5 linked regions of the Homo sapiens genome follow. The protein of the gene in region 4 purifies or fractionates together with the protein of the main gene of each other region. This does not show direct contact. Each region holds a gene or a part of one and is shown on either strand. Other genes may lie near its edges.

What was found.
Region 1: the proteins of ELAPOR1 (region 4) and IQCB1 purify together in Homo sapiens (affinity purification with mass spectrometry; one large-scale study listed by BioGRID and IntAct). This does not show direct contact.
Region 2: the proteins of ELAPOR1 (region 4) and TMEM131 purify together in Homo sapiens (affinity purification with mass spectrometry; one large-scale study listed by BioGRID and IntAct). This does not show direct contact.
Region 3: the proteins of ELAPOR1 (region 4) and KLHL41 purify together in Homo sapiens (affinity purification with mass spectrometry; one large-scale study listed by BioGRID and IntAct). This does not show direct contact.
Region 5: the proteins of ELAPOR1 (region 4) and DCUN1D5 purify together in Homo sapiens (affinity purification with mass spectrometry; one large-scale study listed by BioGRID and IntAct). This does not show direct contact.

The regions. Positions count from the first base shown.
Region 1 is NC_000003.12:121,793,551-121,797,071, forward strand, and holds part of IQCB1 (IQ calmodulin-binding motif-containing protein 1), read right to left. Parts: intron 2,017-3,521; coding exon 1,907-2,016; intron 1-1,906. UniProt on the Homo sapiens protein: Involved in ciliogenesis. The function in an early step in cilia formation depends on its association with CEP290/NPHP6.
Region 2 is NC_000002.12:97,789,936-97,793,456, forward strand, and holds part of TMEM131 (transmembrane protein 131 precursor), read right to left. Parts: coding exon 3,460-3,521; intron 3,050-3,459; coding exon 2,451-3,049; intron 1-2,450.
Region 3 is NC_000002.12:169,512,687-169,516,207, reverse strand, and holds part of KLHL41 (kelch-like protein 41), read right to left. Parts: intron 1,635-3,521; coding exon 1,477-1,634; intron 1,355-1,476; coding exon 1,247-1,354; intron 1-1,246. UniProt on the Homo sapiens protein: Involved in skeletal muscle development and differentiation. Regulates proliferation and differentiation of myoblasts and plays a role in myofibril assembly by promoting lateral fusion of adjacent thin fibrils into mature, wide myofibrils.
Region 4 is NC_000001.11:109,204,187-109,207,291, forward strand, and holds the end of ELAPOR1 (endosome/lysosome-associated apoptosis and autophagy regulator 1), read left to right. Parts: 3' UTR 1-2,595; downstream 2,596-3,105. UniProt on the Homo sapiens protein: May protect cells from cell death by inducing cytosolic vacuolization and up-regulating the autophagy pathway. May play a role in apoptosis and cell proliferation through its interaction with HSPA5.
Region 5 is NC_000011.10:103,064,648-103,068,168, reverse strand, and holds part of DCUN1D5 (DCN1-like protein 5), read left to right. Parts: intron 1-1,601; coding exon 1,602-1,710; intron 1,711-1,795; coding exon 1,796-1,900; intron 1,901-3,521. UniProt on the Homo sapiens protein: Contributes to the neddylation of all cullins by transferring NEDD8 from N-terminally acetylated NEDD8-conjugating E2s enzyme to different cullin C-terminal domain-RBX complexes which is necessary for the activation of cullin-RING E3 ubiquitin ligases (CRLs).

The sequences.
Region 1 (3,521 bases), on a different chromosome or scaffold from region 4:
AAGAGCGAAGGTGCTGAACTGGAGAAAACTGAAAATTAAAAAATTAAATAGAATCCAACAGGTTAGAACCGCATTTCAGTATATTCTGGAACCTCAAATGCAAAAATACTGGAAAGGCAACAAACACAAAATGTGAGACTTAAATAATTTTTGCTTCACAGCTTATCTTTTTAATGGAAGTATTTATAACTCTTCTGGTTACATAAAGAAAGCAATGGAATTTCTATTTTAAAATAATGGAATATTAGATTCCATAGATACACTTCTAAGTAGAAAAAAATCTGTAATCCTGGGCTACTTTTAAATAGAGATTTTAATATTGAAAGAGAGAGTATATGAGCAAATTTGGGAACTCTTGTGGGACTAAACATTAATGCTCTGAATCCATGTATAAGGGTACCCTTAAATTTAAGATGACAGGTAACTAAGGATGATAGCAGGTGGAATCCATAAGTAATACCTACTCTATCTGAATTCACCACAGAGGCAATACCAAGAGCACCTCAGATGCTTTGGGTAGAAAAATATACACTGTGACTCAAAAAGTACTCAATATTTCCCAAATTTATCTAACCACAGAAATGCTTTTAAAAAAAAAACAGCTTGTAAGATAGGCAATAAACTTTGAGTAATAATAGATGGATAATACTTGCTTCTCATTAGTACTACCTATTTAATGCATCTATTTGTTTACCTAGATTTGTAAATTTTCAAGGACAGAAAATGTGCCATATGCATTTTTCCTTCTATCATTTTTTAAGTGCCAGATAATATGCTAAAAACTTTGTATTATCTCAAATTTTACATTATCTTGATCATACAAGTGTATAAACTATTATTCTCATTTTATAGATTGGAAGTTTGAGGCTGAGAGAGGTGGGGGATTGTCCAAGTTCACTCAACCAGTAAGCTGCTCAAGTGAGATACAAACTCGAATCTGTTAAATGCCTAGTACATATATCATATACTAGGCATTTGATATATATTTAAAAATTAATTCTTTTCTTTGCTACCAACAATATTCATGCCCAATAATATTTAAAATCCATCTTTAATTCTTCCCTGAAGAAAACGTTCATCAATTAATAGGATACCCACTAAGAGACACAGTTAGCTAGAGTGATTTCAATGTCTTCAACTCTGTGACTACATAGTATTTTGAACCCCAGAGCTATTTTTAAATGTTTTTATAACTGAGAAATGCATCTGCAGTTATTAAAAGAATAGTTTCAGTTTTCTTTAAAGAATTAACTTCTGTAAAATGCCAGTTTCATTTTAGCAAACTAAAGCTTGGCTTTAAGTTAGGCTGCATGAAAAAGTCACCTCTGAAACAGATCTTCTTTACCATAAATTACCTAGAAGCTAAGTTATTTTTTCTTGTTCTGTGACCTTGGAGGATCTGGATTGGTTAAGTCATTGCAGAAAGTGGGCTATGTCTTCAGTATTTCCTTTTCAGTCTACTTGAAATAAATGCCGAACTATATCATAATTCAATGAAGATATCCATCCATGCCATATTTATTCAGGAAAATCAGGTTAACAGACTTAAACTCTTATACGCATACATGTTATTGTTATAATTATACACACGAAATTATGATAACTGTTGGTTTAGAGGGTTTAATAATATAACTATCATTGGCTCCCTTTGTAGGCTTGGCCCCTCCCCAAATATCTTATTAAGTGGATAGGATTGCATATTTGACACATCAGATTCCTGTCTTACATCCTTTGCTTTGAAAGTGCATCTGGTTACTGGAGTGTTGGTACCCAGAAACGTATGGAAAAAAAATGAAAAGATAACAAGAAACATACTAGGAAATTAAAAAAAAATCACCTAAATTTCAATTCAACTGTACTCTAGTAAGATTCTATGATCATCAATCCCCTCACCAAATTTTTTTACCTGAAACTCCTCTGCAAAGCAATCACAGCAGATGGAAGCTTCTTTAATCTCTTTCTTGTCTGAAAACCCTTCCAATAGGCTTGAATCAAGCATGCTGCTTGATGTAGTTTCTGAAATGCCGAAAATAATTTAGAGATATCTCTAGGAAGGTCTTTAAAAAAAAAAAAAAGTTTACCTCTTAAAGTATCAGGTTAGGGCAAATATTAATCTCTAGCTCTAACAAGATGGGTAAGAATATTAAACCTTACCTCCCAAAGGAGGTATGTTAGGCTTGGTAAGGCAATTTCTAGAACATACTCAAGATATAGTCTAGTTAGCTCCAAATTCTCCCAGAATAATCTCACTTCCATTTCCTTTTCAAAGATTTCATAGTCCGCCTGACCTTTCATAATCTTTTTTGAGCTAACATGTTAATGTTTTTACTTAATAGGCAATCAACCTAGTTAGGTTCAAACTATAAGCTCTGTTGACCATTGTGGATGGTTGCTCGAATCTCTGTTTAGTTCTGTAAGCTTTTGATATGCTATTCTCCTGATAGACCATTGGGCTTAAAAGGTCAGTGAGCTGTCTGAGTTCTTGACTGAATTCTGTCCCAGTCTCCTGTTTACTTAATAGACTTCTGAGTCCTCAAATGGAATGGCAAAGGGTACAACTATTAATAATAAAATATAGTTTTATGATTTTGTTACCTAATCAATATGAATTTGAGCATATGCATAGTTTTGAGATTAATCTAAACTCACGATGGTTCATATATACAGAAAAAAGGAATTCCCTTCTTCTGCACTCTTCCTTCCAGCCTCCCCCAACCCATTCTCCTGCCTTACTGGACTTATTTTCATGGTTTCTGCTTGTATTTTTAAATTTATTGTCTTTTTGGTTTTGGATTTTGGATATACAATGTCCCCTTTTCCTTTTAAATTAAAAAATATCTTTAGTCATTTTAGATGTTTTCCATATTTAAGTCTTTATCTGGAAATCAGAAAGCAATATGCCTCTTCCTGTTGAATGGGCTATTTAGAGCCATCATTTTGAGTATGCTAGAGGAAGTATGATGAAATAATCAATAACTTGCTGCCTCAAATTTCTAAATAATTTTATTAATACCATTTCTTACACAAAGGAAAAGGCATTATTGTTGTATCTCAAAGAACAAGAAGGGTAGCCATAGGTAACCATAAATACAGTTTGCTACAATTAGAGATTTTTTTTGGAAAAACAGTTTTAAAAGTTTAAATAGCTTATAGATAAAAGAAGATAAACATCAGAGATGGGGCTTTCATGAGAAATGATGAATGAAACTGATGTGGCAGTATTTATAAACAGATGTAAATGGGAGATTGAAATTATGTTTTCCAGCAGATTGAATGGCGGAGAGATACAATTTTGTAACATTATATTTTAAAGATGGGGTTTTGCTATTTTGACCAGGCTGGGGTGCAGTGGCTACTCATGGGTGTGATCATAGGGCAGTCTCCAATTCCTGGACTCAAGCAATCCTCCTGCCTCAACCTCCTGAGTAAAAAATTTAAAGATATTTCTGTTTTGGGGGTATTTTGCTTGAAATCTTAAGAGAAAGAAAGTGAGGAACATTTAAGGAAAACTAAGGTTTAAT
Region 2 (3,521 bases), on a different chromosome or scaffold from region 4:
TGCAAGCCATCCAACCGCAGAAGGCAAGATCCAGGGAGATAAACACATTCACTTGAAGAGGTCATCCTGAGCAGCTTCCAAAAACCAGAAACTACATAAGCTCATTATAAGAAATAATTTTAGTATGAGATACCAGGGGGAGAAAAAAAAGAACGTGTTGCCTCTAAAAAGAGAATGTTACTATTTAATGTAAATCTGCTATTTGCAGGGGTGTGGGGGTAGGCTTTTGAAAGATTATAAAGGTTTTGCCCAGCTGGAAGCCTATAGTTTCACAACATACTACTAGTTTGCAACCCCAAGATCAATGCCCACCTTTTAAAGTTCATTTTAAAGACTGTCTGTCTATATGCATGCTATACTTCAATAAAAACATTGAAGAAGAAAAAAAATATAGATACAGGCTCCTTCCTTTTTCCCAAACAGCATCAGTGGGAAGGATAGTGAGTAGAGTAGCCGCGCCTGCAAAGCTTCTAACCACTGTCTCCTCACAGGCTCAAGAGTCACCAATAATGTGGCATCCATGCTCCCTCACTGAGTATCTCTTAGTAGGTTGACTCTAGGACCACTGTGAAAATTAAAAAGCATTTCATTTTAAAATTTAGGTTCTCAATGAGTGACCCTGAAAATAGAATTGGCCCATCACGCTGGTGTTGGAAGACTGTGTTGACACAGGAATGAGGTAGTCAATTTGACTGCCCAACTCTTTCTTTGTGATAAGAAAGGATAATACAGATTTATTTTATTCACGCCCTAAATGTGGGGAAAACGCTATGTAACTTGATCTAATTAAAAAAGAACTTTTAAGTATTCACTTAAGATTATTCTAAAAATTACCCTAAAATATGTAAGCTCAGTTAATAATGGGTTAGCCAAAAAGGATTTCTGTAGAAGAGGTTAACCAATCATATTCAAGACATCTTACTGTTTTACAAATCCGAATGCGTGTAATTCCAAGAGAACTCAATAGAGCTAGTTTTTGTATTCCTGGGACTAAAAAATTATCTAAAACTCCTTGACTCTGGGATGTCAAGTTTCTTCTGGCCTCTTAGGGCTGCCAAGATCCCTGTTTTCCGTATAAATTGAAGCCCAAAACTCCTTGGTAAACCATTCTGGAAGGGACTGATACAGGCTTGGAATAATGTATATTAGCATGGCTGCCACAAGACAGAAAGGAAGATGCAAAAAAGCTCAGGCTGTGAAGGGATGAAATTGCAATACAACTAGAGGCTATTTACTGGTTTTTACCTTTTGATTCTGGAGCTTACAAACTGGTCTACCTATTTGTGTGTGGTGCAGACTTCCAAGCTCCCAGTGGTGCCCACCTCTTGGTATTTATGCCCTTGCGCGGTTCTCTCTCCTGGAGTGTGGGCTGGACCACACTTCGAATGAGCAGAATACTACAACATTGATGGGATGCCACTTCCCAGATTAGATAGTAAGAAACAGTGACTTCCGTCCTGCTTCCTCCTTGCCCTCTTGTTTGCTCATTCTGGGGGAGCCAACTGCCAAGCTGTGACCCGCTCTGTGGAGAGGAACCATGACAGACCTCTGGCCACAGCCAGCAAGGAGGAGCTTGGGCCCTCCGTCCAACAGTCCGTGAAGAACTGAATCCCACCATCAACTGCCTGTGTGAACGTGGAAGCAGGTCCACCTTCAGTTGAACCTTAAGATGACATCAGCCTTGGCCAACACCTTGACTGCAGTCCTGTGTCCTGTGAGGGCCATGGGACCCCGCTAAGCTGTACTCATGTCCCTGACCACAGAAACTGTGAGATAAGAGTATACGTTCTTTTAAGCCCCTGGGTTTTGAGGTCATCTGTTACTCAGAAATAGGTAATTAATACAGTAAGCAGAACTCTAAAGCAGGGTTGGCTTTTTTTGCAAAGGGCCAGATAGCAAATATTTTCAGCTCTGTGGGCCATATTGTTTTGGTCACAATTACTTAACTGTGCCATAGAAGCATGAAAGCTGAGGATATACCAACAAATGAGCATGGTTCTATTCCAATAAAACTTTATTTATAAAACCAGGTGGTGATTTGGCCCGCTAACTGTAGTCTGCCAACCCCTGCTCTAAAGTAAAGAAATCCTAATTTGGAGTTAAAAGGCAGATGATCTCCATTTTACTCCTGTGCTCAAAATTATTTTAACAATAAAACAAAAGCTAAATCTATCACAATAACACAATCTCAGGCAGCTGAAAAGAAAAGCAGATGTCCACAGAATTTCTGATTTTGGTAAACAATCTAAGAAATACAAATATATCTTTTATGACAGATACCTCTAATTGCATTTTTATGGAAAAGTTGAAGTCCAACACTGGAGATAAATCTGAGCCAGAGGAACCTACTGAATTAGTTGTTTACCACAACTATAATCTTAATAGCTCCTTAAGCACGCACTGGCTTTTCCCTCACACATCACGGATCTCCGGCAGTGGGAGATGATTACCTTTGCTTTTTGGCAATGGCGATGGAGGCTGCTCTGTAAACACTTCTAGGGCTGGGGAGTCATGGTGGTCGAAGTCTTTGTCCATGGCTTCTATGAGACTGGTGATGTCCGAGTCCTCGGAACTGTGCCTCGCGCTGCTGGCACGTTCTGGGTGGGAAGGGTGTGCGAGGGGGGCGGGAGACAGCCTTTCAGGCTGCGGCTCCTGGGGCTGAGGCACTGGCGGTGGCAGAGGAGGCTGAGGGTGCTGCTCCAGCGGGCTGTGGGCATGGTGCTGGCTGCCGTGCTGGCTCTGCTTTGCCCCTTTGGACTTTCTGCCCGCTGTATGACCTTGAGTCACTGTGTTCGAATCTAAGACAAGGGGGCTTGTTTTGTTAGCAGACTGTGAAGAAGCTGCTTGAGCAGAAGTCCTACTAGAGGTACTTGAACTGTTTTTGGCTCTGACGTTTTCCACGTCAGCTGAGTTTCTATTGCTGTGACTGCTGTGTGGGTGGACCGATGGGCCACACTGCTTATGACTCCCGGCACTGGGTCGGGATGATGAACCGCCTGCTCCACAGAACCCCCTACTGTGACCGGGGTCACAGCTGAGTGTGTTCAAGCTGAAAAAGGGACCAACTGCAGATCAGTAAATAGCAACCTACAAAATCTAATATTAAAAAAAAACTTCAACTTCATCAGTACAGCCACCATAAATATAAACTACACTAGGGAAAAAATAGCAAGAAATAGGGAAATTTCTACAACTCTCTAACATCTGTTCTATCTGAACATTTATAATTTACCATCAGTGATCTAACTAAAAGTATTTTAACCCTTACCAATATAATAAAAACACAGTATCCAGCATGAGCTCTAAGTCACTCAGAGTTCCATACAGGGTGTTATTAAGTAATCAGAATTAAGATTTTTTTTCTCCTGAGCAAAGATGAAAAGAAACTTATTTTTTATTGTAATTTTATCAGCCAAATCTATGTACACTAGGGAATTTATTGCCAGCATGTGAACATACTTTCCTTCAGATGAAATACCAACGATTCTCCTGAGATCAAATGGCCTTCCCACATCGAAGGG
Region 3 (3,521 bases), on a different chromosome or scaffold from region 4:
TTACAATTCTAAATTTTGGCTCCCTTTTCAGGGTTGGACATCACTATTAATTCAATGGCCTGGGCAAATGATGACAAGCCAAATCAGGCAGATTTTTCAGGGGCAGAATATTAGTTCTCACCATCTAAACTGAAAATGCTTATTTTACTAGACAGGTTATACTGGTTTGACTGTCTCTGAAGCATTCGGAGCTCACTTCTCCTCTCTCTGGGTTATAACATCTCTTTCCTGATTACAGGTTCCTTAAGAATTGACTGGAAATCAAGTTAGGTTTATATATGAAACCTCATCCTGGTTTTCTCACAAGATACTGGGTGCTACTGGGAGCTCAGTTTTGAACAGTTGGAAGCCATTTTGAATATTACCTCTGTCAGGGAGTAAATATGTGGAAGAACACTGCTGAGGAAATAATTGCCTTAATTTTTTGTTTTTATTTTGTCTTTTTTACTTCCCTCTTTTCAATCACCACGCTTTTCTTTCAAACTGACCTATCTAAAGTCCCTCTTATGAATGTAAAGTACAAATCCATGATATTTTTTATGCACAGTTGTCTTAGAAGATATATTTTAAATACTACATTAAAGATACCTTTCAATTTTTATCTACTTATGGCTAAATGAATAAGAAAACCCATTGGTTTTAATGTAGTAAAATACAATTATAAATCAGTGAAATACAGGACTTGATTATGCTCCTAGATACTGCCTGGACTGTAAGGATGCTTATGATTGGGGTATTAGGCTCATTCCTAGCAGTATGCTGAGTATCTACATGTTTACTTCAGCGACTTGAAATTTTAAGATTTTCCCTCCACAATATGATAGGTGAGAACCATGTCCCATTTTAGTGTGCAGATCCAAAGGAAAAGAGGAAGAGACCGGGCGTGGTGGCTCACACCTATAATCCTAGCACTTTGGGAGGCTGAAGCGGGCAGATCACCTGAGGTCGGGAGTTCAAGACCAGCCTGACCAACATGGAGAAACCCTGTCTCTACTAAAAATACAAAATTAGCCAGGCGTGGTGGAGCATGCCTGTAATCCCAGCTACTCAGGAGGCTGAGACAGGAGAATCGCTTGAACCCAGGAGGCGGCGGTTGCAGTGAGCCGAGATCACACCACTGCACTCCAGCCTGGGCAACAAGAGTGAAGCTCCATCTCAAAAAAAAAAAAAAAGAAAAGAAAAGAGGAAGAAACCCTTCTAATAAAAAGTCATTTAGACATAAATCATGAGAGTTCAGGGTACTTACTTGTCATCTGTCTTTCCTCCTAGACAATATATCATCCCTTTATGTGAAATCACATTATGGCCATAGACTTTGATAGGGAGTTTTTTTACTTCGTTCCATTTTGCAGCCCTAAAATTAAACGAGACAGAATTTATATACCTTCAGTAAATTCCAGGTTCTGAAAATATGAATATGTTGTAGGCACGCATATACTTGAATGCTTAGGGAACAGGAATATCATGCCAACTTACACAGGATCATAGCATAATACTGAATCCAGCGAAGCCTCTGTTTGAAGGTCTTTGCCTGCAACTACATAGATTTTATCATCCACCTCTCCCAGACCGAAGAGACACCTGGCTGAAGGCAGAGGTGGAAGTCCAACCCATTCAGATGCTATGCTATCGAGCTGAAAAAAACATATATGAGAGATTGTGGAGCCTGTTAGAAAAAAATTAGAAGTACACCAAAAAAAGTTATACTTTATATGTTGTTTAGAAGTCATCGAGATAGTCAAATATCTCACAAGTAAATAAAACTACAACCCCAAAGTATCACATTGTAGCTCATAATTACCAAGAAGAATGAGTAAATCTACTTGGCCTACCAGATAAAGATATCAAAATCTTCAAGGCTTCAAGAAAAGAAAAAATAAAATAGAATCACCAGAGGTTAATTACAACTGTGAGGTTTCTTGTCAAATTTTCTCCCATATTGCCTTGTTCAGCTTTGAAACAGGAGATCCTCATACTTTTAGGACACTGGGGAAAGAAAGGTTGTCATAACAAGGAGGGTCACAGAATGTGAATGACCCCTGCGTGCTATATTTAACATGCTCCCCATGCCGGCAGCTGGGACAGCTGGACCTGTCACTCAGTCCACAAACAACTGGGATGTTGGGCAATATCTTTTTTTCTTTCTTTAAAAACATTTTAGGTTCTCTGTGTTTTGCTTTATTATTCCTGATACAGGCAGGCGTTAAAGTGAATTTCCTAGTGTGTTGTTGGGAGTCCCTTGAAATACTCTTCTCTTTTTTAAAAAATTTATATTAATAAGTAACTGCTCATTTTTGGTCACCACCACTTCTGCAAGCTTAAGATTTTCCCAAGGAGGAAAATCTCCTTGTGCCCATGCCCTGGGGTAGATGATGGTGGCATCTGTTTCATCACTTACTTTTGGTAATTTAAATATTTTACACTTTTCATTTTAGCACACTAAGGCACAAGAAAACTGTTTTCTGCAAGAGTACAGTTGCAGATTTGTTGTTCTCTCTGGTACCACTTCTAGATTGCAAAAATAAAATGAATAAAACCCAGTTTCACTGGATACTAAGAATAGATGTGCATACAAATGGCTGTGGTATAGACAGGGGTGTCTGTGGAAGCCTATCTATATGTGGTCTAGTAACCTCAGTTAAACAAAGCGCTAATTAAGACTAGATGACATGAGAAGTTTAATCTCCACATGTGCATTCTTAGCTTTGCATTCACTAATTTCAACAGCTAGATTTTGATCCCTTATGTTTTCACTTTTGAAAGAAATTCTTTGATCATGAAGGTGGTATGTAATATAGTAGAAATAATAATGAACATTTATGGGGTTTTGACTGTTGTCATAGTCTTTGAACTAAATGCTTTACACAGGTAACCTCATTTAGTTCTCCAGGATAGGCATTTCTATCATCCCCATTTTACAGATGAGGAAACCGAGGCACAGGAAGATTAAATAATTTTCCCAAATACACAGAACTTTTAGGTGATATTCAAATCCAAGCCATGTACATTCACAGTTGGTTTTAAAAAATGGAAACAGCAGCCATCATAATCCCATACCTGTGGGCTTAACTCTCATACTGTACAGTACTGCCTACCTTCCCATATTACCTGTTAGAGGGCACTTTCTCTAGCAGATGGAACAGTAGACTACCTACCAGTCTCTTTTATAGAGGAACTATCAAGCTATTTAACTTCTCTGAGTTCAACTTTCCTCATTGTTAAAATTAGGGTTTGGACCTAGATTACTTTAAGACCTGTTCAAAGATTTGATGAATCTATTAATTCAAATTAATGAGTGGGGGAAAAAATCCTCCCTTACCAAGGTAAAAAATTCTCATAATCTATTTACAGCATACAATCAAAGGTCAAATTACTCCTAAATTAATGCATTTTAAATAGATGTGACCAAGCAGAAAAATATAAAACCTGAAATTCTCATGTAAATATTGTCTGATGAGTCACAACCCTCTTTTATGGTGAAGTGTTTTTATCCTGGCATACCGTTCTATTAGTGCCTTTTA
Region 4 (3,105 bases):
TGCTGGGATTACAGGCATAAGCCACTGCACTCAGCCTTTTATTTGTTTTTTAAACCACGTAGCTCATTGCCTTCTCTTAAGTAAATGATAGATATTCTCACTGAAGCCAAAGGAATAAGTTCATCAAGAAAATGCCCAAAGCCCTGGTGGATACATCCTCCCTATCTTTTTTTTAAACCTTCCACTATCACTCTATGACACTGAAAAGAACCAGGTAAGCCCCAAACCCAGATGTTCCAGCCTTATCCTCTGTTGGGTTTACCCACAGACATAGCAAACCCTGTCAGTGAGGAAAATTCCCCATCCTTGAGTGCCCCCGTCCTAGAAGTTTGGGCCATATTATGGAACAGGGGTCTCTTATTTGAAAAGAGCACAAGGAGGCCAAGATTTTAATGGGGCACTTTAGGGGATACAGCCCACAATGGCATGGGCCTGAGGTGGCCGTGATGTCTGCTTCTAAGCTTAACGCATCTGCTCAGGCACAGAATAAACGTCTAGGCTGGCCAAAAAAGGAACTGAATCCCAGGCCCATACGCCAGCACCAGAATCAAACCAGTCTTCAAGGAAGGAAGGCTAGGAGAGTTTAACAAGATTTTCACTGGGCCCAGCATGGTGGCTCACACCTGTAATCCCAAGGCAGAATGGTGGCTTGAGCTCAGGAGTTCAAGACCAGCCTGGGCAACACAGTGAGACCCTGTCTCTAAAAAATTTAAAAATAAACAAGGTGTTCACCAAGCTGGGATACTTCTCACTATTAAGCCCCTATCTTTCTCTTTTTTTCATTCTCAATTGCTTTGTGTGATAAAAAACTAAAGAGACTTCTGGTCCAATTTCTGGCAACATCCCTTCTGAAAGGTGAGTAGAGTGGGTGTCTTCTATGCCCATTTTCCCCAATTTTACACAAACTATTATCAATGAACTTTTAAGTACCTAGAATGGGTAAAACCAGAGCAAGACTTTAAATTACCTTCTTCTTTCTTCTACTGGCAGTTCTGCCTCCATCACTATCAGGCTAGGGTGACCTTCCCTTGGTCAAGCCCCAATTGCCCATGATTTGTGCCTGTGCCCTTTCTCCAGTGACCATTTGGTGACCAGATGGTAGATATAGAAAGGGGATGGCATTTGCAAGTGACTAGTCTGCCACAAAATGCTCATCTGATTAGCCACTGCTGCCCTGGCAATGGCTTTGTAAGAGTCAATGAGAACTAGAGCCAGGCTGTGGTCCCTGGCCATCAACAGTGTTGGTGACGGCAGGGAGTCCCTTTGGTTTAATAAATCCAGTTTTTCTTTGGGTATCCAAATTCTCCCCTCCTTTTGTAGGAGTCAGGCTCTCAGAACCTGTGTCCATGTTGGAACTTCCCCCAGTGTGGATGCAGATACGCAGCTCCTGAGCTCCAGCCTAAAGTCTTCTGTAGCCTCAGCAATACTTGGGCACCTGCTGTCTCACTGAATAGCTTTCTTTTGTGACAAAGGCCACAGACAGCCCTTAGACTATTCCGGAAACAGTAGGAAAAATTACATATGTCTTTGACTTCTTTATTCTGACTCCACTGATTTTAGCCATAATACTTTAAGGAGCTACTTTTTACTACCCCTTACCGTGCTGACTTCTGCAGGTCTGCCCTGTGACCTGTCAGGAACTCCTGAGTTACGCTACTGGGGTCACCTGTTGCTCCCCTAGCAAGTTAGGCATGTCATATATTTTTAACAGCTTTATTGAGATATAATTCACATATTACACAATTCACCTTTAAAACATACGATTCAATGGTTTTCAGCAAACTCACAGAGTTGTCCGCCCACTTGAGAGCAAACACATGTTCAATTTTCTTTTCCTTTTTTTTTTTGAGACAGAGTCAGCTTTGTTGCCCAGGCTGGAGTGCAGTGCCATGATCTTGGCTCACTGCAGCCTCCCCATCCTGGGTTCAAGTGATCCTTCTGCTTCAGCCTCCCCAGTAGCTGGGATTACAAGCATGCGCCACCACGCCTAGCTAATTTTTGTGTTTTTAGTAGAGATGGGGTTTCACCATGTTGGCCAGGCTGGTCTCAAACTCCTGGACTCAAGTGATCCACCCACCTCGGCCTCCCAAAGTGCTGGGATTACAGGTGTAAGCCACCGTGCCTGGCCTACATGTTCAATTTTCTATGAACAAAGGCTTTAGTCCTTGACCCAGGGCTAAAGTGGTCTGTCCAAGCTGTTGTTGGTAGAGGGAGTATGATAAAATGTTTAAATCTCATTTGGTTACCTTGAGTCCTGGAACATGCAGTAACTGTCATGCTATAGACATCATCTGTATTTGGCTGGGAATACAAATGAAGATTGTGGTGTATTCAAGCAGTAGGGTTTTTGCTTTTGTTTTTGTTTTAGTGCCAACAAAACTTTTTTTTGTCTGACTACATTAAAGATAAGACTGACTATATTTATACAACAGAAACTTTGTAATAGATTTTTTCAGCTTTGTGAAATCGAATTTTTTTTCATCAGGGCTGGTTGGATTTCCTTTTTACCCTGTAATCCAAGCGTTAATAGTTTGTTAGAAGATGGGTTATTGCATGTCACTTTTTTTTTTTGTAAAATAAAAACATACCTTACAAGTTGTTTTTCTTAAACATGGGTTGGGTGGCTGGAGGGGTGAGTGGGAAATGTAAGTGTCCTGGAAGCTTAAACTGAAAAGGAGAAGGATTCCACATTCGCAGAGAGGCAGAGAAAAGAGCACAGACTTTGGAACAAGATGGACATAGGCTAGAAGCCTCCCACTACTTGTTGAGGAATCAGTCAATAACCAAAGCCTCAGTTTCCACAATAATAAAATGCATCTAATGATACCCAACACACCAAGATTGAATGAGCTCAAAAGAAATAACTCATAAACCACTTCGCATGCTACTTCCCTTCCCTTCTGCTCAGGTTTCTTTCAGGAAACATGAGGCCAGCCACATAACAATAAATCCACAAATAGAAGCAAAATTAGCTTCTTTGGGTATGAAGTAGATTATTACAGACTAGATGTGGAGAAAATCCTAGATGATATCAAGGGCCTACCATTTCCTGAGGTTGCTAGATTTTTGCTTTCTTTCTTTTTTTTTTTTTTTTTCTGAGGCTCA
Region 5 (3,521 bases), on a different chromosome or scaffold from region 4:
AGGGATGAAGATAATGCTAATGCAAATTAGAAAATGTTATAAATTTTAATCATATTTAAATAAACTTATATGTAAAATAATCAGTTATGAGAAAAGTATGGGACCAAAACATTCAAAAAGAAATAGAAAATCTGAATGGCCCTATGGCCATTAAAAATGTTGGTTTATTAGTTAAAAGTTTTCCTTCCCTCAATACTCACCTGAGTTTGGACAGATGCTAATTCCAGGGTTACATAAGCTTTTTCAAAAAACGGGGGGGAAAAGTAGCAATTCTCTTTTCATTTTCTGAGTCTTATGTACTACAATCTTGTTAAAAAAACTAGCAAGGAGAGTAAGAATGAAACTTAAAAGCTAGTCTCACTTAGGAACCTAGCAAAACAACCCCAAAATCCAGCAATGTATAAAACAGATAACATGACCAAATTTGACTTATTCTAGAAATGCAAGGTTTAATTAATATTAGAAAATTGTCCAAAATATTTACACATTAATGAAATTATGTTACTACACATTATAGGCCTTTGCATTATTGATTTAGTATAGTCTTAGTTAAATCTGAGAATGCCAGGTGGCTGGAGAGCATGTTGAATAACTAAAATTCAGTTTTGAGTGGAATACTGTGGACCACAGTAGATGGCACAATTAATTTGATTAAAGGGAGTCAGATGGTCTCTCAGAGGTGGCAAAATGTGAGTTAGGTCTTGATGAATAATATTTTTATCAGCATGTTTGAGATTTCAAGTGGAAATAATGGGTGCTGAAGTATGGCAGTGGCATTTGGGAATGGTAAGTGATATAATTAGAGCATGGTAAGGTTATCAGGAAGTGGCAGGAGATGAAACTAGAGATTTGTGCCAAATTGTGAAAGGCCTTGACTGCCTTGCTTCTTGCTAAACAGTGGAATTTATCAACCCACTGAGACAAAGTCAGTTAAGATTTTTGAGCCTTCCATATATTTAGCTGCTTATATTTAATGTCTTGTCTTTAAAAATAACACGTATGACTTGTTGTTTGCATGCTTTTGCATATATAACTTATTTGAAGTTAGGTGCTTCTACTGATTGACTTTGACTTTTTGTTCACAAAAATATAGGGATCTTGATTTATGACTGGACCACTTAATGTATTAATTTGCACTGTGTTATATCCTAAACTTTTAAAACTACTCATGACTAATGTCTTTCACCAAACTGTTACCTACGAACTTTCTAAAGAAATGTGTGACAAAGGCGTGATTAGTTTCATTTGCTCTGCCATTTTTAGCTGTATATGTGATAAAACATGTTTTAATACATCTCTTTTTAACTTCGATTTTATTTGGAATTTTTGAATGAGCTGTTTGTTTGTTTTTAAGCAAAGTAATTGGAGTGAACTTTCTTTGATTCCCAGGTTTTCTTTTTTCCCCTTTTTTCTTTTTTTATTGCATTGGTAGATGCAGGGCAAGAAATTTATTACTCTAAATTTGTGACTCAGAATTTTAAAACTAAATTAACTTCATAAATGCGCTCACTTTTTTCTTAATGCATTACGTCTAACCCCCAGTGATACTTTTATTTGATTTTCTTGATTATGTAATTTGTTTGATATTTCTTTTATTTAAGGTGTGACTGCACAGAAAAGTTACAAAACAAATTTGACTTTTTGCGCTCACAGTTGAATGATATTTCGTCATTTAAGAATATCTACAGATATGCCTTTGATTTTGCAAGGGTAGGTGCAATTTTCTTGTTTTGTTGTTTTAATAGCTTTTCATCTTGAGACCACACTTAGGAAAACTTTTTCACTTATATTTTAGGATAAAGATCAGAGAAGCCTTGATATTGATACTGCTAAATCTATGTTAGCTCTTCTGCTTGGGAGGACATGGCCACTGTTTTCAGTATTTTACCAGTACCTGGAGGTACGTATGTTTTTTCGAATTTTGAAAATATTATTTTAAAACTTAATCTGAAAGTTATACTTTTGAGGAACAAGTAGATTTTTAATAGTATGCTTTAAAAAAACTTTAGAGAAAAAATTCTAAAATATGTACATATCAGTTGCTATTTTTAGATAGAAGTTCATGTTTATTAATATATTTTGTACCTAAGATATTTTCAATCCTACCCCCCCAGTCCCCCAAATAAAAGAAACCTCCAAGAAATACATTGTATCACAGACATTTGTCTTGCAGAATTAGTTTCTCGGGGTTTTCATAAGAGAGTTAATGCTAGTACACAAACCTTTAAGCTTCTAAATCTGATTTTCTTCTTTTGTTACACAGGGTCTTAAGCTGAAATGTACATAAGAGAACCAATTTAGTAATAAAACTTTCCTTTTCTACTTAGGCTCAATCTAAAGAAACAGAATAAAGCTATTAATATTTTATGGCCACAAATATGAGAATGGCTATAATAGTATACTTAAATATGCTGGTTACTAAAAAAATGTAAGCTGAAATGATGACGTGTTCTTTTAGAAGGTTTATCATAGCAACTACTATAGGCAGTGATTCTAAGAAGATGCTATTCTTTTTTTCCATTGCTTTGTCTAGTTTTTTTTTTTTAAATCTGTTTTTGTGCCTTTGTAATTCTAGGGTTATTGGTATAGTTCTCACCATATCTTGAATACAGATGCTTTTTCCTTTGGAAATAATTTCTCATAAAGCACATTGCTTATAGCTGCTTCCCTTTTCCCAGAGTAGTAAAAGTTGTGATACAAGACAGTGATATCAGCTGGGCGTGGTGGCACACGCCTGTAATCCCAGCACGTTGGGAGGCCAAGGCAGGCAGATCACTTGAGGCCAGGAGTTCGAGACCAGCCTGGCCAACATGGTGAATCCCCGTCTCTACTAAAAATACACACAAAAAATTAGCTGGGTGTGGTGGTTTGTGCCTGTAGTCCCAGCTACTCGGGAGGCTGAGGCACGAGAATTGCTTGAACCAGGGAGGTGGAGGTTGCAGTAAGCTGAGATTGCACCACTACACTCCAGCCTGGGTGACAGAACGAGACTCTGTCTCAGAAAAAAAAAAAAAGAGACAATGATATGAAAAGGTCTTACATGAATGAGTTTTACGCATGATTCAATCTGTAAGTCCTATAAATTATTTTTGATGGATGGTATCTATTTTCTTCCTATTAGTAGTTTTGGGCAAAAATAAATTTAACTGAATGTAAAAATATTCAGCTCTATGGGGAGCTGAGAAGAACTAAATATTTTCAGACACTTGTTATGTGCAGGTTGTTTGGCATATATTTTTAAAAATCTTTATAATACCATTTTGAATTAAATTCTATCCCCATTTAACAAATGAGGAGGTGGTTTCTATTCTTAAGTAACTTTCCCAAAATCACTCAATTAAGTGGCAAGGGTGGGATTTAAATCGAAGCCTATACTCTTTCACTTGTTTCCAAAGATGCCAAACTCAAAATGTGGCTAAACAGTAAATCTTGAGCAAAGAAATGATTTACTAGGAAGCAGCACAATAGAACATACTGGATGTAGGAAATGTTATATATCTTGATCTCATTGGTGGTAACAC